7 linked regions of the Homo sapiens genome follow. The protein of the gene in region 5 interacts with the protein of the main gene of each other region in a pairwise test. Each region holds a gene or a part of one and is shown on either strand. Other genes may lie near its edges.

What was found.
Region 1: the proteins of PAX6 (region 5) and GRHL2 interact in binary tests that used the Homo sapiens proteins (3 or more experiments, as listed by UniProt).
Region 2: the proteins of PAX6 (region 5) and HNRNPC interact in binary tests that used the Homo sapiens proteins (3 or more experiments, as listed by UniProt).
Region 3: the proteins of PAX6 (region 5) and PPIL4 interact in binary tests that used the Homo sapiens proteins (3 or more experiments, as listed by UniProt).
Region 4: the proteins of PAX6 (region 5) and TLK2 interact in binary tests that used the Homo sapiens proteins (3 or more experiments, as listed by UniProt).
Region 6: the proteins of PAX6 (region 5) and UBE2K interact in binary tests that used the Homo sapiens proteins (3 or more experiments, as listed by UniProt).
Region 7: the proteins of PAX6 (region 5) and GCM2 interact in binary tests that used the Homo sapiens proteins (3 or more experiments, as listed by UniProt).

The regions. Positions count from the first base shown.
Region 1 is NC_000008.11:101,498,939-101,502,438, reverse strand, and holds part of GRHL2 (grainyhead-like protein 2 homolog), read right to left. Parts: intron 1-3,500. UniProt on the Homo sapiens protein: Transcription factor playing an important role in primary neurulation and in epithelial development. Binds directly to the consensus DNA sequence 5'-AACCGGTT-3' acting as an activator and repressor on distinct target genes.
Region 2 is NC_000014.9:21,231,443-21,234,942, forward strand, and holds part of HNRNPC (heterogeneous nuclear ribonucleoproteins C1/C2), read right to left. Parts: intron 2,788-3,500; 5' UTR 2,752-2,787; coding exon 2,511-2,751; intron 1-2,510. UniProt on the Homo sapiens protein: Binds pre-mRNA and nucleates the assembly of 40S hnRNP particles. Interacts with poly-U tracts in the 3'-UTR or 5'-UTR of mRNA and modulates the stability and the level of translation of bound mRNA molecules. Single HNRNPC tetramers bind 230-240 nucleotides.
Region 3 is NC_000006.12:149,539,544-149,543,043, forward strand, and holds part of PPIL4 (peptidyl-prolyl cis-trans isomerase-like 4), read right to left. Parts: intron 2,044-3,500; coding exon 1,976-2,043; intron 1,889-1,975; coding exon 1,824-1,888; intron 1,517-1,823; coding exon 1,399-1,516; intron 1-1,398. UniProt on the Homo sapiens protein: PPIases accelerate the folding of proteins. It catalyzes the cis-trans isomerization of proline imidic peptide bonds in oligopeptides.
Region 4 is NC_000017.11:62,597,325-62,600,824, reverse strand, and holds part of TLK2 (serine/threonine-protein kinase tousled-like 2), read right to left. Parts: intron 175-3,500; coding exon 5-174; intron 1-4. UniProt on the Homo sapiens protein: Serine/threonine-protein kinase involved in the process of chromatin assembly and probably also DNA replication, transcription, repair, and chromosome segregation. Phosphorylates the chromatin assembly factors ASF1A and ASF1B.
Region 5 is NC_000011.10:31,791,425-31,794,322, reverse strand, and holds part of PAX6 (paired box protein Pax-6), read left to right. Parts: intron 1-208; coding exon 209-291; intron 292-520; coding exon 521-671; intron 672-769; coding exon 770-885; coding exon of another isoform or gene 886-1,059; exon of another isoform or gene 1,060-1,118; intron 1,119-2,898. UniProt on the Homo sapiens protein: Transcription factor with important functions in the development of the eye, nose, central nervous system and pancreas. Required for the differentiation of pancreatic islet alpha cells.
Region 6 is NC_000004.12:39,739,636-39,743,135, reverse strand, and holds part of UBE2K (ubiquitin-conjugating enzyme E2 K), read right to left. Parts: intron 1-3,500. UniProt on the Homo sapiens protein: Accepts ubiquitin from the E1 complex and catalyzes its covalent attachment to other proteins. In vitro, in the presence or in the absence of BRCA1-BARD1 E3 ubiquitin-protein ligase complex, catalyzes the synthesis of 'Lys-48'-linked polyubiquitin chains.
Region 7 is NC_000006.12:10,875,883-10,879,041, reverse strand, and holds part of GCM2 (chorion-specific transcription factor GCMb), read left to right. Parts: intron 1-1,649; coding exon 1,650-1,902; intron 1,903-2,484; coding exon 2,485-2,597; intron 2,598-3,025; coding exon 3,026-3,151; intron 3,152-3,159. UniProt on the Homo sapiens protein: Transcription factor that binds specific sequences on gene promoters and activate their transcription. Through the regulation of gene transcription, may play a role in parathyroid gland development.

The sequences.
Region 1 (3,500 bases), on a different chromosome or scaffold from region 5:
TTCCAAAAGTCTGCCATCTGAATCAGACCACCGTTGATTTTGGTGAAGGAGGTGAGGGGGCTTGGGAGCAGAAGCAGGTCCCACTGTGCCTGTAACCTCCTGTCTTGCTAATGTTCATGGCCCCTGCTGTGAGCCACCACCAGCCCAGACCCCTCTGGAGGGAGAAAATGAGACACAGAATATAGGAGCAGGTAATTATTCACGGAGATCATTTAGTTCAATTCCATTTTACAGATGAAAAATAATGAAAGAAGAATCTTCTGATCTTATGTTAATTATCTTATTGGCAATGCAGGAAAGAGGCAAAAGCTACCTTTGTTCCTTGTTTCTTTGAAAAGTTAGATCCAAGAAGTACAGAAGGCAGTTATTTTATGGGACTCACTGAACTGAGAACCAAAAAACAATGATTTGGGGTGAGTGTGGGAAGAAAAGTCAATTTTAACTCCCCAGTAATGGTATCAGAATCTTAACCAGGTATTTCACAGACTCACGTTCATGGTTTAAGAAGTAAACATGCAGTGCTAATCTTGCTCTCAATCTTTCTTAAAAAAAAAAAGCATGTTTTTTCAAACTAATCAAAACTCCAAATTTTCAATTTATACTTAGAATCCCAAAATGAAACACAGAAGAAAAAATGTAAGATTTCTTCTTACATTTCTTCTCAATCCAGGCTTTTAGATCAAAATCCTATACTTGCTCACTCACATGCCCTACGATGCATTTGGATGATCCCTAAGGCTCTTTCTAGCTCTAGGATTCTAGATTGCAAATTAAAACCAAAACCAATTATCTAGGAGGCCAAACAGCCACATGCTGTCGCACCCTAGGCCCCGGCAGCAGCCCCTGCTGGCCGCTCACACTCCACTGAGAAAACACTGGCAACTTAACAGTAGTTAAGCAGTTTCTTCCTGCTCCCTTCTGTCCTCTCCTTTCTCCACTCCTCTCTCCTTCACTTCAGCCTTTCCTTGTCTCCTAAAACCCTGATCTAAATTCATGGGCCTTAAAAAAGAAGGGACTCTGGCTCTCAGGGTTAGTTATATTTGTATATTCAGAGTTCAGATGAAAGGCTGGCGCCAAAATAAAGAGAAGCCACAAGCAATTCTTGCTTTCCGTTTCTGTTCCGGAGGGTATCTGCATTCACACTTGTAAAGGAAGCATTTCCTTGGGAGTGAAAGTGAAGTGCTCCCCACAAAGTTCATTGCCATGTTCATTACAAAGTAAAATAAGGTACTTCATCTACCACAGGCATTGATTGCTTTCCACTGAATGCCCATTCAAATGCATGAACAACCTCCAGAACCCTGACTTATTTTCAAAATATACATTGAAATCTCCTGAAATGCACCAGCTTTTCTAGCACTTCCTATAAGAATTCTTAAAATGTGTTATTTGATTAGTATTGTATGTGGCAAATCAAAAGGTGCTCTTTTTACAAATAATATTACTACTGCTCACCAAAACTCATGAAGCTGAAACACTTCTCTCTTCCCAGTATAATTGGGGATGGGAGGTAGAGATCCCCAAAGGAATGCTTTCTTATTTCTATCCCACTTAACCCATTATAATCCAGTACTTTTTTTTTTTTTTACCATTTCCAGTAAGAAACTTACAGCATAAAACACACTTTCGGTCGGGCGTGGTGGTTCATGCCTGTAATCCTAGCACTTTGGGAGGCCAAGGTGAATGGATCACCTGAGGTCAGGAGTTCGAGACAAGACTGGCCAAAATGGCGAAACTCCGTCTCTACTAAAAATACCAAAAAATTAGCCGGGCATAGTGGCGCACACCTATAGTCCCAGCTACTCAGGAGGCTGAGGTAGGAGAACTGCTTGAACCTAGGAGGCGGAGGTTGCAGTGAGCCGAGATCGTGCCATTGTACTCCAGCCTGGGCAACAAGAGCAAAACTCCAACTCAAAAAAATATATATATACACTTTTGTTATTACCTATTATAATACAGTTTACCATTTACCATTATAAGAAACTTACAACATAAAATGTGCTCTCCTGGTAATGGAAAAATAAACAAAACTGATCTGAAGAGCCTGAATTAATCCAAAGGAAGAAACTATGCAGGCAGGTAGATGGTAGGGTGAATCTGAAATTTGGAGGCCTAAATTTGAAGACCAGTGAAGCTATCTGAGGGACTCCCAGGTACATGTTGTTGTTACTAAGCAACCCACCAGTCCTCCTGGGCCAAAGCAAAAATTCCTATCCAGCCTGTTGCTGCTCATTAAGGAATTTTCCCTGGACAAGTTTGCCAAACCAATCACTACCCTTTATCAGGTTAGGCCTAGTTTTTTTTGTTGTTGTTTTTTGTTTGTTTGTTTTTATTTCTTGTTTGGTTGGTTGGTTGTTTTTTTCTGAGACAGAGTCTCACTCTGGAGTGAGGCTGGAGTGCAGTGGTGCGATCTTGGTTCACTGCAACCTCCACCTCCTGTGTTCAAGCGATTCTCCTGCCTCAGCCTCCTGAGTAGCTGGGAGTACAGGCACGTGCCACCATGCCTGGCTAATTTTTGTGTTATTACTAAAGACGGGGTTTCACCATATTGGCCAGACTGATATCGAACTCCTTACCTCATGATCTGCCTGCCTCGGCTTCCCAAAGTGCTGGGATTACAGGCATGAGCCACCGCGCCTGGCCAGGCCTAGTTTTTATAATTGAACAAGAGTCATTGAAAACCTCTTTAAAAGGAAGAGAGTATCAGTACCCTAGTGAATGCCAGGGATCATGAGTGAGAACTCTAACTTAGGGTAAGGCTTTTCTTATACTAAAAATGACTTCAAATTTTTCCAAGGTTAAACCTAGTTGACATCATCTGCTGCAATGATCTTACCTCTTGGCCCAGGTAACAAGGATGGGCTGCTGATGCTGTAAATACTGAAAGAATGCAGCAAAGTTCACTAACTATAGCAGCACCTAAAATCAGACTCACCGTTATCTCTATGCGCAGAAGCTGTGCAGTTCTCACCAAGTTAATATGGGAGGAAAAAAAAACCAGGAAAGTGACATTAGGGAGACAAACCAAGGAAGGAAAGAAGGGAAGGAGGGAACAAGAAGAAAATGTTAGTTTAAATAAGGGAGGAAGTAAGGAAGGGGAAAAATACTATGTAACCATAGTTAATTTTTTAACCAGAAACGTATGTCTATAGTTAGACCATAAGCCATAAAGAGGAACTGAGGCAGTTGCCTGAATTATCTAAAACTTTTTAAAAAGTAAATTTAACAACCTAACATCCAAAAAATCTGATTTGAATCTTCTGTACATTTGAAACAAACACTTCTTCAGGTGATTGGGTACTGTTAATGTTGTTTAAATGCTTCTGTGTATGTTTGATTTATCCAAGTACTTTTTTTTTTTTTTTTGAGACGGAGTCTTGCTGTCTCCCAGGCTGGAGCGCAGTGGCACAATCTCAGCTCACTGCAAGCTCTGCCTCCCGGGTTCACGCCATTCTCCCACCTCAGCCTCCCAAGTAGCTGGGACTACAGGTGCCCGCCAC
Region 2 (3,500 bases), on a different chromosome or scaffold from region 5:
ACCTCCGAAGCTCAGGTGATCCTCCCACCCAAGTAGCAGGGACCACCACGCCTGGTTAATTTTTCTATTTTTCGTAGGGACGAACTCTTGGGGTCACGTGATCTGCCTTGACCTCCCAAAGTGCTGGAATCACAGGTGTGAGCTATCAAGCTCAGCTTCATCTCTCCTTTTAATATTAAAAAGGCTCACAAATTTTTACAAGGCTAAGGCTTCATCTTCCGTTTCTTTGTAGTCTGTTCTTTACCATTCAAGTGTTCCTGAGACTAACATTAAGTCTGTCTTTGGTACTCTCCACCCTCAGATACCACTTCAACTCAACTCTCCCCATTCAAGGTACTGACTGTTCACTCAGTTACTATTACAAGAGAAAACTATCACTGGTTGCCTTTCCAAGAATGGTTCAGCTCATTCCGAATTATTACAAATATATTAGAATGAAATATATTAAAATATATGCCAATTCACAAATTAACATAGTGAAGTGTGACAACCTCAAATCATCCTCAAAGGCAACTTCAGATTTTCTTTATAAGTAAGGATTAGCTGTTCTACACGTAAAATATCCTGGGTTAACGACTGCTTTCTGAATAATTGATCAATTGCTTAAACAACCTTTACACACACCAAAAAAAATAAAAGAGCAAAGGGAAACAACCCTGGTTTTCAAATACAATTTGTAACACGTATGCCCAGCTACCTACCCTGCCACCCACTGCCTACCAAACAAGAATTTATCTTCTCCTTGTTCTAAAAAGCCCATGTCAAAAAGCCAAAAACTCTCTAAAATTCAGTTTACCTTCCCAGTCATGCTACAGCACTCGAGTCAACAGTAACTCCATTTTCATATATACTGCTTTTATTAAAATGAGCTTCATTTTAATATACAAATGCCCCAAAATATAAATTCCAAATTCCACCTCAAACCATTAACTAGATGAGTGTGGGTATTTTTTTAGACAGAGTCTTGCCCCATTGCCCAGGCTGGAGTGCAATCACGGCTCACTGTAACCTCCACCTCCCGGGTTCAAGCAATTCTCCTGCCTCAGCCTCCTGAGCGGCTGGGATTACCGGTACCCAGAACCACAGCCTGCTAATTTTATTTTTTAATAGAGATGGCTTTTCACGGTGTTAGCCAGGATGGTCTCCATCTCCTGACCTCATGGCCTGCCCAACTCAAGCCTCCCAAAGTGCTGGAATTACAGGCATGAGCCACCGAACCTGGCCAAATGTGGATATCTTAAACTTAATCTTATTTATCTTCCCTTTTTATACAAAAGCAGCTCATCAAATGACCAACTGAAAACTGACTCAGGCCAGGTCCAATGGCTGACGCCTGTAATCCCAGCACTTTGGGAGGCCAAAGCGGGAGGATCACCTGAGGTCAAGAGTTGAAGACCAGCCTGGCCACCATGGTGAAACCTCACCTCTACTAAAAAATACAAAAATTAGCCAGGTGTGGTGGCACATGCCTGTAGTACCAGCTACTCGGGAGGCTGAAACAGGACAATCGCTTGAACCCGGGAGGCTGAGGTTACAATTAGCCAAGACTGCACTACTGCACACAATCCTGGACAACAGAGCTAGACTCTGTCTCAAAAAAAAAAAAAGGACTGAATATATTGTCTATTTGCTGAACACCATTACATGAATAACCTTCAGGTTTTGGTACATTAACCTCATTTACAATTCTGACTTTGAAACCATATAAAGTGTTTCAAAACTAAAGAGAATTAAATTTCTGAAAAAGCAATCCAGTAAGATGTAAAAACAATGAAATAGACCCAAATTATGTATCTGGTTGGTTACATAACATTATCAAAGAATTGTTTCACATAACTCTAACCTACCATGCTTTGAGTCAATATACATAGTAGAATGTATACAAAGAATAAACTAAATCACAAATATAAATTTAAAAATAATCATCTTAACTTTGTAAAAACAAAGGTATGATAATTTTGAAACTGAGGCACAAGGTACACATAAAATGAGAAGTTAAAACAGACATCTAGTACAACTAATAAAATAAACATGTGGACACTGGATTCTGGCTTGAATAAACCAAATCATAGGTAGTAAGTACTCTGAGGTGTCATTACATTTTAAAATACAAGAAAATCTAACACTGAGCCAAACTGCAGTCGGCCCAACGGATGGAGTGAAATCCCAATGGGGAGACAAGCAATCAACACTAGAGGGCTCCTCCAGTCTGCTGTGGGCAGGACACAACCATTTAGGCAACGTTTTTACATTGTGAAGTGTCATTCCCAGCTCCCCCTACTCACGATTGTAGTAGAGTTGTCCTAGCTCTACTACACAAAATGGTACAATGAAGAATATCCTTTACTTAGCCAATTATAACTATAAGCCTAATGTATTTTTATTAGGCTAAACAGTCGCAATATCCAGAATATCTCATGCTGTCAGTTTTACAGACATAAAGACAAAAAAAAAACGTGAATAGAAAAACTCAGGCCTGAATTACATCATCAATGAAAAAATTCACTTACCTAAAACCTGGCCAGCAATCATTCTGCCATCCTCTCCTGCTACAGCAGCCCGGGCATTTCTCTCATTAACATACTGAACGAAGGCAAAGCCCTTATGAACAGAGCAGCCCACAATTTTGCCATACTTCGAAAAGATTGCCTCCACATCAGATTTCTTGACCACAAGAGTGTTGAGATTCCCAATGAATACACGGGAGTTCATGGAGCGAGGATCTGTCTTGTTGGTAACGTTGCTGGCCATCGTGTTTGATGGTAAGGTTTCTCACAAAGCCGAAAACTGTAAAGCAAAAAAAAGTATACAGGTGAACAGATGCTAAAAACAATATTCCTTGATAAAACATTCTCCACTCTCACTCTGAATCACTGTTAACTGCCCAGAGTATTAGGCAACTTAAAGGGACTCACAGCATTAAGTATGTATTTGCTAATAATTTCAGAGACTCCAGCCTCTGAATATACTCTAGAAAGTCAACTTCTTCCTCTTCCATTCTATTTCAGCAGCACTAAACTCTAAATTCTCAGGAAAAAAAAATTCTCCCTGGCAGATCATTGGCAATATAATTTCCTTGGACATAATTCCAAGTGGCCCTCCTCTAAGTACTCAAGCAAATTAGATTTGCCTAAATTCTCTGACACCAGTTTCTGCTGTTTTTCACATTACAGGTCATGCTAACTATTCCCTGCCATCAATAATCTTGATTCACGTTGCTTTTATTGAGTTTCACCGGTTCTGTATATATACACACAGCATAGCAAACGTCAAATTCTGTCCCAAGCCATTCATTAGCTAGATTAATATGGATAGCTTACACTTACCCATTAAGTATAATTTTCTTCAAAAGGCAATAAATAGAATCAATTCATTTACACTGGAAACACCTATTTCCAGATACTTCAATTAATCTGCAGTATGCTTTAGATACATAAGTATCAATACCATCTTTTTACAGACTGCAATGACTCGAAGGCTACTTTTTATATAACCTAAAA
Region 3 (3,500 bases), on a different chromosome or scaffold from region 5:
ATTTTTGTATTTTTTTGTGGAGATGGGGTTTTCACCATGTTTCCTGGGCTGGTCTCGAAATCCTGAGCTCAACCCATCTGCCTGCCTTGCCCCCGCAAAGTACTGGGATTACAGATGTATGCTACCACGCCAGTCAGTTGTCTTATTTTAAGAAGCTGCCACAGTCACCCCAACCTTCAGCAATCACCACCCAGATTAGTCAACGGCCATCAACATCAAGGCAAGACCCTTCACCAGCAAAAAGATTATGATTTACTGAAGGCTCAGATGATCAGAAGCACTTGTTAGTAATAAAGTATTTTTTGGTCGGCCACGGTGGCTCACACCTGTAATCCCAGCACTTTGGGAGGCCAAGGCAGGTGGATCACCTGGGGTCAAGAGTTTGAGACCAGCCTGGCCAACATGGCAAAACCCTGTCTCTACGAAAAATACAGAAAGTAGCCGAGCGTGGTGGTGGGCATCTGTAATCCCGCTACTCGGGAGGCTGAGGCAGGAGAATCGCTTGAACCTGAGAGGCGGAGGTTGCAGTGAGCCGAGATCACACCACTGCACTCCAGCCTGGCTGACAGAGCAAGACTCTGTCTCTAAATAAATAAAATAAAATAAAATAAAACAAAATACTTAGACAAGCCATGACTCAACTTCATGTGTATATAGTAGAAAACAGAAGTACCTACTCTAACAAGTAGGTCATTGGGAGAATTAACAGGGTCATTGGGAGAATTAAACAAGACAATGAATAGAAGGTACTCTGCGTAATGTTTTTAAAAAAGTAAGAAATACTGAAAAACGGCCAGGCGCGGTGGCTCACGCCTGTAATCCCAGCACTTTGGGAGGCCAAGGCAGGCGGATCATGAGGTCACGTGATTGAGACCATCGTGGCCAACATGGTGAAACCCCGTCTCTACTAAAAATATAAAAATTAGCCAGGTGTTGTGGCAGGCGCATGTAATCCCAGCTATTCGGAAGGCCGAGGCAGGAGAATTGCTTGAACCCGGGAGGGAGAGGTTGCAGTGAGCCGAGGATTGTGCCATCGCACTCCAGTCTGGGAGACAGAGTGAGACTACATCTCATAAAAATAAATTAATTAATTAAATAAAAAGAAATACTGAAAAATGAGCCACAAATGTGAACAGTGATAATCACGGATGGTGGAGTTGTAGGTAATGTTTTTCTTTGTACTTTTCTGTATTTTCTCAATTCTTCACAATAGGAATGCTTTACATTTAAAAGAAGAAAATAATATTTTTTAATATAGAAAAAGTGCATTTTTTCCCCTAACACATATTTCTGATTGAAACCCTCTAAGCCTTACTGGATAGTTTAAAAAATAACTCTGTGGGCTCCTTCCAGTCCTTCATTTCTAAGCAAATCTCATATTCTTACTCATTTCCTAACCTGAGATCCATGTTGATCACTGCCATTATTCACCATGGACACTGTGCCTTTCTTCTTGTGCTTAATTCTTGGGACTTTTTCTGCCTCAAAAAAGCTTGCTTGATCACCATACAGTTGGCTGAAAAAACATATAAGGTTATAAATGTAAGTACTCTCAAAATGAAATACAGAAGTACTAGTAACATACAGGGTTATCAATTATTTCTTTACAGAAATGCCAACAGAATTCAAAATATTACTTTTTTTTTTTTAGGGAACTTGGGGGAAAAAATCTAAATTTAAACCATATTTTAAAATGCAGATTGAAGCATGAGCAATTATATTTTTCCTCATTTAAGAATAAAAGAATTTGTTCTGCCCTTCCAGAGGTTAAAAGTAAATAAATAAATAAATAAATAAATAAATAAATAAATAAAACAACTTACCCAAAGATAGACTCTCCTCCACGGCCAGTCCCTGTAGGATCGCCAGTTTGTATGATAAAATCCCTCTGTAATATGTAGGATTCTTTGTTAATTCACAGAGTTTGTTAGATAGTTCCAATAACAAAGGAAATGACTAATATCTACCAACTCACCTGTACATTGTGAATAAGGCAATAATTGTAATATTTTATTTTGCACAGTTTCAAGAAATTCAAGCAGGCTGAAAGAAAGTAAATACCAAATTTATCACAGTAATCCACAAACACATTTTTAAATAAGTAAAGCCACAGTAAAATGTAATTTCTAAATTACTATTAAAAGAAAAAAAAAGTCAAATGTCCAAAGCTATAAAAAAGGGCAATAGGCCGGGCGCTGGCTCACACCTGTAATCGCAGCGCTTTGGGAGGCGGAGGTGAGTGGATCACTTGAAGTCAGGAGTTTGAGACCAGCCTGGCCAATATGGTGAAACCCTGTCTCAACTAAAAATACCAAAAAAAATTAGCCAGGCATGGTGGCGGGCACCTGTAATCCCAGCTACTAGGGAGGCTGAGGCAGGAGAATCACTTGAACCCAGGAGGTGGAGGTTGCAGTGAACCAAGATCGCACCACTGCACTCCAGTCTGGGCAATAGAGCAAGACTCTATCTCAAAATAAAATAAAATAAAATAAAATAAAAGGGCAATAAGTCTAGAAAAAAAACATTTTAAATTACCTTTTTTTTTCCTTTAATAGGAGTTTTGGGGCATCTGGGCTAATACAGAAAACTGACACTTATAAGCAATCATTTACTGATGGATTGATTTTATTACGAGAAAAAAGAACACTTAAAGAGCATATTGTAGTAGAAAAGGATCTAGCAGAATATATAAAAATGGATACGGATTATATCAATTAGGAAAAAGTCAAACACCCGGGGTCATTTTTTAAATAATAGTTAAACAGCCCTTTATAAAAATCCATACACTTATGAACAACCTTTCTCATACAAGTTAATCTGCTTATCCAATAAACATTTACTGAGTACCTTCTAGATGCCTGACACTGCCATCACAAATGCCATTAAACTGTGGTCCCTGCTCCCAAAAAGTTCACAGTCTAGTCGTGGAAAGACACATTAACAAGCTCTTAAGGCACTAAGTTAGAAACCAAACAGACAGTAAGATATATGAGGCAATCCCTGCCCTCAAAAAGCTTACATTAAATTAGGGTCCTTACATCTGAACACAAGTAGTTACATACTGGGCATATCTAATTAATAACATGTGTGCCACTTATTTAAAATGGTAAAAAAAGTAGTTTTAAAAATTCCACAAGAGTTCAAAAGATTGTTTCTGGCTAGGGAAATTAGAAAACCTCAGGGAAGGTTAAGGCAAGCATTAAAAGAACTGGACTAGCAGAGAGTGAAGGGTGAGCATTTTAGGTCTGGAAGACTATGAAAAGGCCTGGAAGTGGAAATTTAAATGTTTTAGGGGAGGTCCAAAACACCAAAGTTCTGTAATAGTCTGGTATTACACAGTAATAGAGCATGAAAAGACTGGAGAGATAAGATGGGGCTGAGCTGTTGAAGAGTGCTGAATATCAGTCTTGCAGTTGTTTTTCTTGAATATATTTCTGGGCTTCATGTTTAACAGATAGGGGTGGTCCTTTTACTAGAAACAAAAATAATGAATTTAGGCA
Region 4 (3,500 bases), on a different chromosome or scaffold from region 5:
ATACCTGGTTTGAGGTCATAGTGTATGATGGGAGGTTTTATTTCATTTAAGTACTTTAAAGCATTCACAATCTGCATGATAATGGACCGGGCCTCTTTCTCCGACATTAATTTGTGCTGTTTCAGGTAGAAGTCCAGATCATTTCCCTCACAGTATTCTAATACTGTACAAAACCTAAAGACAAATAAACCAATATTTAACCATGGAATAAGAGCAAGCAGATTAACACTACCTAAATTAGTCCCATGTGAAAACTTCAGGTCATCAGCTTCTCACTCCTTTCTTCTTTGTTCCTTAAAATACTCTTCAATTGTTTATTCAGTATTAGCTGAGGGGTTTCTGGTAAGAAACTGCTTATTCTCTTGAAGAGTTTCCACACCCTCAATGTTGGAATCTGTTGTGCTCAAGTTCACCCATGGCAGACCTCTTCTTGAGTCTAGACTATAAGAATACTGATAAGAACTATAATGTATTTAAGCTAGGTATCTTCTTGGAAGGGGCTCCTTTACACACCCATGCCACACATCCACGTCTAAACAACCAGAATGTGATCAAGTACACAATTCTCTCTTTTTTTTTTTGAGACTCCGTCTCACTCTGCTGCCTAGGCTGGAGTGCAGTGGCGCAATTTTGGCTAGGTACACAATTCGCACTGCAAACATTTTATATAACCCTGAGTGCTGGCAATGAGTAAGAATCTAGAGTTTGCCCACGTCCCAAAAACTGACTGCATACTACGTCTTCTGACAGCTTGGCACAATACTGCACTACAATTTCTCTTAAACACAAGGTGTAAAAGAGCTTGTAAAGTATAGTATCTATGGTTCTAACAAAAGTATGTGGGTTCTCTTTCCTTCCCTTATGTCAATATGTCATACAGACCCATACATAAAACCATATGCCATTGGTGGCATCACAGGTCACGTGTCTATCTTCCAAGGCATTATACTCTGAAGTAAGGTGTCCTGAACTGTTTGAATATTCCTGAGGGATGAATACGTTTTGAAGTTTTCTAAGTTGTGACAATGTGGGTGTATCAGTCAGTTTAGCCTGGAAAAAAAAACCACCTGAACATTTAAAACAGAGAGACTTTAATTCAGGGAACTGATCATACAGATGATGGAAGAGCTGAGAAGACAAACTGGTCAGTGAGGCACCCTAGAGATCATCTACAGCAGGAAGCCATTAGCACCCTCAGGCAAGCAGGCCAGAAGGGAGGAGATGGTGAAACCAGAACCCAGGGTCATCAGGGGAAACTAGAATTGCGGGGAGGGAGAGGAGGTGGAGACCCCCTCCCATTTCTGCCTTCCCATTGGCTGAAACCAACAGAACACCAATGGACACATGGGCCTGATAAACACAGCCTACACGGGCTAACCCCCCAAAGATACAGAGCAGCGAAAGGGCGAGGAACAGAACTGAGAGCAAACAGACTCAGGTCTAGCGCTATGGGCCACTGAGCAATTTGAGGCCTTCATAAAGCACTGCAATTGAACATGGACACACATGGTCCTGTGGACACCACAAACTGAACAATATCTTATGTATCTTAAGAAACATGGCAGGGCATGCTAACACCCTATTTGAAAACAAATGTCTGCTGTAATCCCAGCAATTTGGGAGGCAGAGATGGGTGGATCACTTGAGGCCAGGAGTTTGAGACCAGCCTGGCCAACATAGTGAAACTCTGTCTCTACTAAAAATACAAAAAATTGGCCAGGTATGGTGGCGCATGCCTGTAATCCCAGCTACTTGGGAGGCTGAGGCAGGAGAATTGCTTGAACCCATGAGGTGGAGGTTGCAGTGAGCCAAGATCATGCCACTGCACTACTGCCTGGGCAACAGAGCAAGACTCCATCTCAAATAAAATAAAATTAAAAAAAGAAATGTCTGAAATTTATAGATTCCTCTGATCTGAGATTCTGAAATCTGAAATATAGACTCATGCTCAATGGAATGATTCTTTCACCCAAATGCAAGTTGAAAATAAAGCCTCACTTTCAGCCAGGCGCGGTGGCTCAAGCCTGTAATCCCAGGACTTTGGGAGGCCCAGGCGGGCGGATCACAAGGTCAAGAGTTCAAGACCAGCCTGCCCAGCACGGTGAAACCCTGTCTCTACTAAAAATACAAAAATTAGCCAGGCATGGTGGCGTGCATCTGTAATCCTAGCTACATGGGAGGCTGAGGTAGGAGAATCGCTTGAACCTGGGAGGTGGAGGTTGCAGTGAGCCAAGATCGCACCACTGAACTCCAGCCTGGGCAACAGAGTGAGACTCCATCTCAGGAAAAAAAAAAGGAAAACAACCAAAACAAAAGAAAGAAAAGAAAATAAAGCCTCACTTTTAATACCCAAACAATTCTCAGAAGATGTTCTAAAAATCATGGTCTGACTTATTTTTGGTGAAAATTCATCATACATACAATAGGAAGAACAAAGTAATCAACTCAAGAATAGTATAGAACCAACTCAATTTCTCACATTAGTTAAAAGTGTGTATACAATTCAAAACAGCAGATAATTTGAGCCTGATATTTAACTTTGAAATAGTTCTTGAACTTAATAGTTCAGAGAGGGGGGTCTACCTAGTATTCAAGAAATTTGCTCAAGGCAAAACAGTAATGTCATGCCCCGCCCCTTGTTTCCCAATCCTGCCTTCTAACTAGATCTTTTTAAAAAAATTCCACTCCACGTGAAACACACATGGCTAAGCTCAGTGCCAGGGCTACCCAAATGAGAAGAAATCCCTGAGAGAATGGCCCAGGTCATGTTTCCAAAGGGAATTATAGTCCTCTTTGGGGTTATTTCTAAATGTAAGGCAGCTGTCTGCACAGCCATATCTGAGACTGTTGGCTAGAACAGACCAAAACTCCTAGAATTACCCTGGGAGGCTGAGGGAACCTGAAGTCTAGACCTAGGGTATATTCTGATTCAGTTCAGACTTCTACAGAGAAACATTTCCAAATGCTGAGATATATCCAGCTAAACTGCTGGATAAACCCAGAGGCACGGGAGGTTACCTATACCAAGTAACAAAATATAGCAATGCCCACAATTAATAACTATCTCAGACAAGTTATTTAACTTCTCTGGTCCTCAAAATCCACCTATAAAATGAAAAGGCTGGACTCTGAGATCCCTTCCTATTCTAACATCCTATAAGCCTATGAGCCTGTATTTCAACATGTAGCACTGAGCCTTGTCTTCATTAGTGCCACATTTCTTATCTCAGTCTAGGATAAAATCACACGGCCAGTACTTTTTAAAAAGGTCTGTCAATGTTCATAAGAGTCTCTGGGGTGAGCAGAAACTCTCTTGAACAGTCTACACTCACTAGTGCACGTCAGTGGCATGCTGGCACCAACTCATGCCAGTTTCCAAGAGCTGACTTAAATTTTCAAGAATTTTGTGAGCTGGTTATCAAACCGTTATAAGCAAAATGTGGTATATCCACACAATGGAATATTATTTTGCCATAAAAAGGAATGAAGTACTGACACAG
Region 5 (2,898 bases):
AGAAAGGTCACTGAATGCCATTCCAAAGAAAATTTAACTTGGTTCTGGTGGGAAAGTTCTTCCAAGTACAGTCAACACTAGAAGCATTTTAAAGGGAATTGGTTGGAGGTAATGGGAGTGGGGAGGTGGGAACCAGTTTGATGCACAGTTTGGTCAACATATTTTGTGTAGTTCTGGCACAATATGGAAAATCAACTTACTCTTTCAGAGTTTGAGAGAACCCATTATCCAGATGTGTTTGCCCGAGAAAGACTAGCAGCCAAAATAGATCTACCTGAAGCAAGAATACAGGTACCGAGAGACTGTGCAGTTTCACACTTTGTGATTCATACCATTTGTCTTTCCTAGAGACAGAGGTGCTTGTACAGAGTACTATTTATTTATAGGACTAATATAATAAAAAGGTTCAGTCTGCTAAATGCTCTGCTGCCATGGGCGTGGGGAGGGCAGCAGTGGAGGTGCCAAGGTGGGGCTGGGCTCGACGTAGACACAGTGCTAACCTGTCCCACCTGATTTCCAGGTATGGTTTTCTAATCGAAGGGCCAAATGGAGAAGAGAAGAAAAACTGAGGAATCAGAGAAGACAGGCCAGCAACACACCTAGTCATATTCCTATCAGCAGTAGTTTCAGCACCAGTGTCTACCAACCAATTCCACAACCCACCACACCGGGTAATTTGAAATACTAATACTACGAATCAATGTCTTTAAACCTGTTTGCTCCGGGCTCTGACTCTCACTCTGACTACTGTCATTTCTCTTGCCCTCAGTTTCCTCCTTCACATCTGGCTCCATGTTGGGCCGAACAGACACAGCCCTCACAAACACCTACAGCGCTCTGCCGCCTATGCCCAGCTTCACCATGGCAAATAACCTGCCTATGCAAGTAAGTGCGGCTGGTGGTGGCCTGCATAACCCAGGCCCCAGAGAAGTGAGGAGTGGCTCAGGGCCTGCGGACCTCATTGGCTGTGTCTGCACCCTTGAGAGCTTTTCGCACTACAGTGATTGGCTTGACCAGTCAAGTCGGAGACAGTCAATCCCATCACTTTTAAGTGATTGACTCATTAATTCATGCCCTAAAAAAATGAGTAATAAAAATCTGTCCAGTTTTGTCAGGTTGATCTGCCTTTTATTATACTGTTACCTTGATAATGTTGGGTGGTGGTGGGGCATGTTTTGGGTACCAGGGAGCCTTGCACCAGAAAGTGGAAATAATGCTGGCACATTATCAGATAGCAGATTAGTAGTTTAAAATTTGGGTTTATATTAATGTGTTTGTATGCTAAATATAGAATCTGTGCACGCATTTGGGGCATTACTTTGGGTATATGTGATAAACTAGTGAGAAAGAAAAAAGGATCAGAAATGGGATTCATATTTACATGGTGAGATATACATAATATAATGAGAATGCTAGTTTTCTGTCTGTATCTACAATAAGAAAAGGCATAGCAGGTATTTGCTGGAAATTTAGTGTGTCTTTGCTGTGAATGGTGTGACGAGTTTGTGGCCCTCCTAGCTGCCTGGGAAGCTTGATGCTATTCACTTGGTATGACAGCCTGCCTCTCCTCTTAGTTCTGTCCCAAATATCTATTAGCCCCTACATTTAGAGGTCCTGCACTAGGTTCACCCTTTATGATGTAAGTTGGATAAGGCAGATGGTTTGTACTAGACCTTTGTTGCTGGATGGATTCTTGATAGGAAAAATGTCTGTCTTCTGGTAGGCCTTTCCCAGTGGTTTTCCTAGAACTCCTGTTTGTGCAACAATTAGAGATATTAGATGGTACGATATTGGCCAGCATGAGCCTCTGCTGGAAACAGTTCTGGGGCTACACTGATTGTTTATTCTCCATTGAACATTTTTTGCTGGATTTCAAATCCAAATAACAGCAAAATAAATGTTTCACAGTCTTCAGACTAATATAGGAGCAGCTAGATAAGCAACTTCAGAGGAATTATTCACATGTTTATTTTTATTGCATCTGGATATTGTTGGCCATAGTGCAATTGATGTAAATTAAGGGATTAACAGCCCATTAGTTGGTGTTGCTATAACTGCGTTGGAATTTTCCAGAAGTCAGGTTGCCTAGAGGAACTCATTGCAGGAATTAGAAACAAATGCAAGCTGAAATTCTGGCAGGCCCTCAAGGCCTGTTTGCCTCTTTGAACTTGATGTTAGCATTCATCATCTGACTTTAATAAGGCCACAGAGTGTCTCGTTCAGTTTCATGTATTATAACAACATCCAGGTTTCTGTGAAGATAGCAAAATGTGTATGTGAGAAAATAATAAGACGAACAAGTAGATGCTGCAATTATATTAGGGCTGTTTCCACATACAGAGCGGTATGGGGAATCAATCTATTTCAAACACTGACTTTTAAAAATTACATAATTTGTATAATTCAAAAAGTACATGCATTCATTAAGCATAAAGAAAATCAAAATGATCAATAACTTTACTCTTCAGAGAAAACTACTCTTTGAATTTTGGAGTGGGTGAGCCCGATTGTCTATCCATTTATTCATTCTCTTGACCAAAATCATCATTTTACAAATGGTGGGTGTCTTCCTCTGGACCTTCTCTGATATGCTTCCCTCTCTGAGCATATGGATTTTGGAAATTAAACATTTCTCCAGTTTGCAGAGAAGAGAAATGATAGTATACTGTACTATCATCTGACCTGCTTGTTCCCGACACACTTCTTTTAATTCATCCCAAGTTTGCTGCCATGGCATAGTACCATGAGAGCTCATGAGGCGTTTTGTTAGGAGAAAGGTTTACCTCCTCAGTGCTGCCATTCCGAACAGTTCGAGGGTAGCAACAGTTTTCTAGTTATAAGTCAGTCTGGGCTTTTGGGTCTGTTAGGAAGTCATGGTTAATTCTCAGGATGGAGGTC
Region 6 (3,500 bases), on a different chromosome or scaffold from region 5:
TGGATGACTATGAATCTGAGGAAAAAATAAAAGTGGTACTATTTTCTTCAAGCCCTTTTTGTTTCGAATCCTTCTCTTTTTTTTTTTTTCCTGAGACAGGGTCGTTCTGTTGCCCAGGCTGGAGTGCAGAGGCACAATCTTGGCTCACTGCAACCTCCACCTTTCAGGTTCCAGCAAATCTTGTGCCTCAGTCTCCTGAGTAACTGGGTTTACAGGTGCCCACCACAATGCCCAGCTAATTTTTGTATTTTTAGTAGAGATGAGGTTTCACCATGTTGGTCAGGCTGGGCTTGAACTTCTGGCCTCAGGTGATCCGCCTGCCTCAGCCTCCCAAAGTGCTGGGATTACAGGCATAAGCCATTGCGCCTGGCCTCTCTTCTGGCTACTTTTTATTTGAGGCGGATTCTCACTCTGTTGCCCAGACTGGAGTGCAATGGTGCGATCTCGGCTGACTGCAACCTTCACCTCCCAGTTCCAGCAATTCTCCTACCTCAGCCTCCTGGGTAGCTGGGACTACAGGTGCGCGCCACCATGCCTGGCTAATTTTTTAATTTTTTTTTAAGTAGAGACAGGGTCTCAGCATGCTGGCTAAGCTGGTCTCAAACTCCTGACCTCAAATAATCTACCCGCCTCAGCCTCCCAAAGTAATGGGATTACAGGCATGAGCCGTTATGCCTCGTGGCTAGTTCTTTTTAATAGAATCCCATAGTGATTCATGCATGAGTTGAACTAAATGCCTGAATCACAGAACATATAACAATAATGAAATTTAAAGAAAAGTAGTGGAAAGAAAAAAAAAACTGACAGGTAAGAGAAGGGTACCTGAAGAAATTTTGTGACAATAACTGTCTATACCCAGAATTAGAAATGCCAGCTTCAAATATAGTTATAATAAATTTGGCTTCAGCACTACATAGGCTTTTCTTTTTCCTTCCTAAGAATTTTTTTTTTCTGATTAAACTCCAGATTAAACCATCTCTATAACCCATCATACAAAGTTCTTTGTTAATGGCCAAAATAATCTCTTAGGAGCAGTGTGAGGGCCCACAGATATTATATAAATAATGCTGGACTCGAGAGTCTCTAAAATCTTATTTCTATCCCTTATGTTACACGCTCTGACAACTTTCAATATATGACCACTTAGCATTAATCATAGCATTATTTGATCAGGGTAATACAACTAAGGAATCCTTATGATAACTATATTATTCATATTATAATAGTTTTTACTTTAAAACATTAACTTCTTGAAGAATAGCTTTTAATATTAAAAATTAACAATCTTTAAATTTAACTTAACCCAAAGAGGAGATGAGGAAGGAATGAGAATTTTTAAGCTGTCAACAATGATTCCATAAACCTAAAAGAAATTTTAGGAAGAAAAGCTCAAGAACTAAACTGTTCCTTTGTCATTGAATTATTAAGGCAAAAGAAGTGAAGAAAATTGAGTTAAGTAACATCCACAATATGGCATTTTCCCGTGAGTACTCTACTTCACAATCTGATTCTTTAAATACTACAAAAACAGCTGCCTCATTACTTAATAATGGTTATAAATTGCTTAACATTCCACATGTAAACTTTTGCTTTAGCATTTAAGTTTAGATTTTTAAAAACTCAAAAAACTGCAACATCCTTGCAATAAACATTTAACCTATCGTCACATTTAAAAGAAAAAGCATTAAAGTTTATGTCCTTGAATGGTGTTTTCCTTAACAAAATGAACTTCTCTCAATAGTTTTATATAAAATAACAGAATTCAAGTTACTCTACCTCAAATATATAAAAAGCATATTAAATCTAATCTTATCAAAATATTCATTTAGCAGCAGCAGCAGCAGAAATAAGCACTTTTTTTTTTTGAGATGCAGTCTCCCTCTGTCGCCCAGGCTGGAGTGCAGTGGTGCGATCTCAGCTCACTGCAACCTCCGTCTCATGGATTCAAGGGATTCTCCTGCCTCAGCCTCCTGAGTAGCTGGGATTATAGGCGCACGCCACCACACCCAGCTAATTTTTGTATTTTTAGTAGAGATGGAGTTTCACCACGTTGGTCAGGCTGGTCTTGAACTCCTGACCTCGTGATCCACCTGCTTCAGCCTCCCAAAGTGCTGGGATTACAGGCATCAGCCACCCCGCCCAGGCAGATATAAGCACTTTTAAATGACCAAACTTTTGGTCCCATTCTCGGTATCGGGAAAAAGAAAAGAAAAAAAATGACCAAACTTGTTTCTAACCAATAAAGAATATATCTTTTTTTTTTTTTTTTTTTTGAGACGGAGTCTTGCTCTGTTGCCCAGGCTGGAGTGCAATGGCACAATCTCGGCTCACTGCAAGCTCCGCCTCCCGGGTTCACACCATTCTCCTGCCTCAGCCTCCCAAGTAGCTGGGACTACAGGCGCCCACCATCACGCCTGGCTAATTTTTTTGTATTTTTAGTAGAGACGGGGTTTCATCGTGTTAGCCAGGACGGTCTCGATCTCCTGACCTCGTGATCTGCCCGCCTCAGCCTCCCAAAGTGCTGGGATTACAGGTGTGAGCCACCGCACTCGGCCATAAGAATATATCTTAATGTATCTTTTTTTTTTTCTTTTTGGGACAGAGTCTCGCTGTCGCCCAGGCTGGAGTGCAGCAGCGCGATCTGGGCTCACTGAAGGCTCCGCCTCCCGGGGTTCACGCCATTCTCCTGCCTCAGCCTCCCGAGTAGCTGGGACCACAGGCGCCCACCACCTCGCCCGGCTAATTAGTGTATCTTAATATATCTTAATGTATATAAGTATACATTATCCAATTAAAAAAATTAATCTACCTATTAAATATTGCTTCTATCTAATTTAGCTCAGGAAGTGCCTTGTTTATAAAAATCAATGAAAAAATTTAAAACTTTGCTGACAGACCTCTAGAATAATGTCACTGCCCTACTATCTTCCAAAAATACTTCAAAACAACCTAAAAAAAAATTCAAGAATAACTATAAGGTCTGACTTCAAGAAGAAGCTAGTATATTATTATATAAAAACATCTGCTATTAGGACAAGCATCTGATTTTTTAAAGATAACTAAAGGTCTCCTCTACATTTAATGATTGCAAAAAGGACTAAATGAAACAGCATCCATGAAAACTGCCAGACCAAGCCAAGCAGATAGGAAGCACTCGATAAACAGCATAAAAAATTAAATATCTAGAAATGGCTCGTATGAACTATAAAACAAAAAATAAAATTTTATCACTTAAGAATTGGTACAAGGTTGGGCACAATGGCTCATGCCTAGAATCCCAAGACTTTGGGACACCAAGGCAAGAGGATTGTTTTAGGCCAGGGGTTTGAGACCAGCCTCGGTAACTTGGCAAGATGCCATCTCTCCAATAAAGAAAGAAAAAAATGGGCTGGGTGCGGTGCGGTGGCTCACGCCTGTAATCTCAGCACTTTGGGAGGCTGAGGTGGGCAGATCACAAGGTCAGGAGTTCAAGACAAGCCTGGCCAATATGGTGAAACCCC
Region 7 (3,159 bases), on a different chromosome or scaffold from region 5:
TTACTGTTAGAATGTGCAGTATTAATGATGTATACAAGTCTGAATTTTCCAACTGTGAATACTTCAGCTTTGCAAATGTTTGATCTAATTTTCCTGAGTGGCAAGAGTGGGGAGGAGATGCAAATGGCTTACTGCTATTATACACTCTTCTGAGCCTTTATTACACCAGCAAAGCTACTGGGTCTGGCTGCTACCCATCTTCTGTTTATATTCCAGCTATGCCACTGTGAAAGGTTATCTATTGAACCTCCACTTCCTTATTTAGTAAACAAGAGTAAAGATGTCCATCTTGCAAAGATGTTGTGAGAATTATATATATTGCATAATATGGCTTTGCAGGTCATACTGTTTCTGTTCCAAATATTCAATTCTGCACTGTAGTGTGAAAGCAGCCCTAAACATTACATAAAAGAAAGTGCTCAGTGGCCGGGCATGGTGGCTTATGCCTGTAATCCCAGCACTTTGGGAGGCCAAGGTGGGTGGATCATGAGGTCAGGAAGATCAAGACCATCCTGGCCAACATGGTGAAACCCCATCTCTACTAAAAATACAAACAATAGCCAGGCGTGGTGGCATGCACCTATAGTCCCAGGTAGTCAGGAGGCTGAGGCAGGAGAATCACTTGAACCTGGGAGGCGGAGGTTGCAGTGAGCTGAGATCATGCTACTACACTCCAGCCTGGGTGACAGAGTGAGATTCCATCTCAAAAAAAAGAAAAAAGGAAGTGCTCAGTAAAGGGTGATTTTTCAATGAAACTTATATGCAAAAGTGACATTTATTGCAGTGTAAATAATGCATTAAATTGACAAAGACTACCAAATATGAATACTAAGGCAATGCTCAGTATTTTAGATACAACTTATTATTGCAGCCATGTGGCTCTTTGTTGAGGAGAATGACAGTCCCATATTGCTCTGGGGAGCAGTCCCGTGCCAGACAAGCTCACCCACACCCCAAAGCTCATGGCTTAAGTCCCTCATTGCAGTACCCTTTTAAACTTGGAGAGCCAAGTTGAGAGTAGGGAGGGAAGCTGTTCTTTCCTCTCTGACATTACTCTGGGTGCCACTGCTAATGTGACTGACAGGTTTGGCATACAGAGCCAAGTGCTTTTGAAGAAAATGCACTGACTTAAAGATATTTACCAGTTAAATTGCATTTCAGTGATAGAACATTCCAATCACTTTTTCCCCTGGTACTTTGATACCTAACTTAAAAATGTTTTCAACATTTAAACACACCAAGAAGTGATATAACATAGTGGTAAGAAGTACAGGCTCTGGAATGGGACTGCCAGGGTGCAAATCCTGGATCCAGATCTTGCTAGCTGTGTGATGTGACCTTGGGCGAGTCGATTAACCTCTCTGGCCTCCATGTCCTCATCGGCAAATTGGAAATAATTGTTTGCCTATAATTTGAAGTCTAGATGAACTAATACATGTATAGCATTTAACAGATAAGCACTATATAAACATTAATTATTACCTGGTTGTCAGGAAGTCTTACATAGAAAGAGTGGCATTTTGGAATTTGACGTTACTGGATTTAAAAAGAACTGGTTTGTATCCTAATGTGCTCAGAGAAATTTTAGAGCATGATGTGTGCAGTTTGGACTGGATAGACTGACCACCCTTCCTTCTGCACTCTTCCAGGAGCTGGCCCTCTTTGACCAATTCCGAGAGTGGCCTGACGGCTATGTGCGCTTCATCTACAGCAGCGATGAGAAGAAGGCACAGCGTCACCTGAGCGGCTGGGCCATGCGCAACACCAACAACCACAATGGCCACATCCTCAAGAAGTCGTGCCTGGGTGTGGTGGTGTGTACACAGGCCTGCACCCTGCCCGACGGTTCCCGCCTGCAGCTGAGGCCGGCCATCTGCGACAAGGCACGGCTGAAACAGCAGAGTGAGGACATGGGGCCAGGGAGAGGGTGACCTTGGAGTCATGAGTTTTTTGTTGTTGTTGTTTTTGTTTGTTTGTTTGAGATGGAGCCTCACTCTGTCACTCAGGCTGGACTGCAATGGTGCAATCTCAGCTCACTGCAACCTCCGCCTCCCGGGTTCAAGCGATCCTCCTGCCTCAGCCTCCCAAGTAGCTGGGATTACAGGCATGCGCCACCACGCCCGGCTAATTTTGCATTTTTAGTAGAGACAGGGTTTCTCCATGTTGGTCAGGCTGGTCTTGAACTCCCGACATCAGGTGATCTGCCTGTCTCGGCCTCCCAAAGTGCTGGGATTAGAGGCGTGAGCCACCACACCCGGCTAATTTTGTATTTTTAGTAGAGACAAGGTTTCTCCATGTTGGTCAGGCTGGTCTTGAACTCCTGACCTCAAGTGATCCACCCGCCTCGGCCTCCCAAAGTGCTGGGATTACAGGCGTGAGCCACCGCGCCCGAGCATGAGTTCTTTGTTCCCAGCTAATTTTCCCCTTCTTCCTTCAGAAGGGTCTGGGGTCAGGGTTAATATTTCTCCCTTCTGGGCTTTGCAGAGAAGGCATGCCCTAACTGTCATTCTGCTTTGGAGTTGATTCCTTGTCGAGGGCACAGCGGATACCCCGTAACCAACTTTTGGCGGCTTGATGGCAACGCGATCTTTTTTCAGGTAGGTCAGGTGAGAACACAATTTGTGATGGATACTTTTCATCAGACCACAAAGGCCAAACCACCTGTCGTGTGCCTTGGGAACCCTGGGCCAAACAAAATACAGCCCCAGTGGCCAGAAATAGGTGCTGGAGCTCCCCAGGGACCTAGCGGGAGCCTAGAAATTCACTCACTACTTTGTGCTCTTTAAGGTACACAGATGGTAAACCAAGTTATAGTTCTTTTAATAGAGTGAAGGGATTGCAGGTGATCTTTTCAGATGTCAATTCTTGAGCCTGTTTTATTTGTTCAAGAATTTTTTTTTCTGTCATTTTGAAAGAAACAAAACTAAACTCTTGAGATGTTGGGAAAGGCATGATCAATTTTTGGGCAACATTGTCAGCTTCCTTTAGAGGCACAAATGTATGATTCATTTTCTCGTTATCGCAGGCCAAGGGAGTTCATGATCATCCAAGACCAGAGAGCAAATCAGAGACAGAAGCTAGAAGAAGCGCCATCAAGAGACAAATGGCCTCTTTCTACCAACCCCAGAAAAAGAGAATTCGAGAATCCGAGGTAACAGG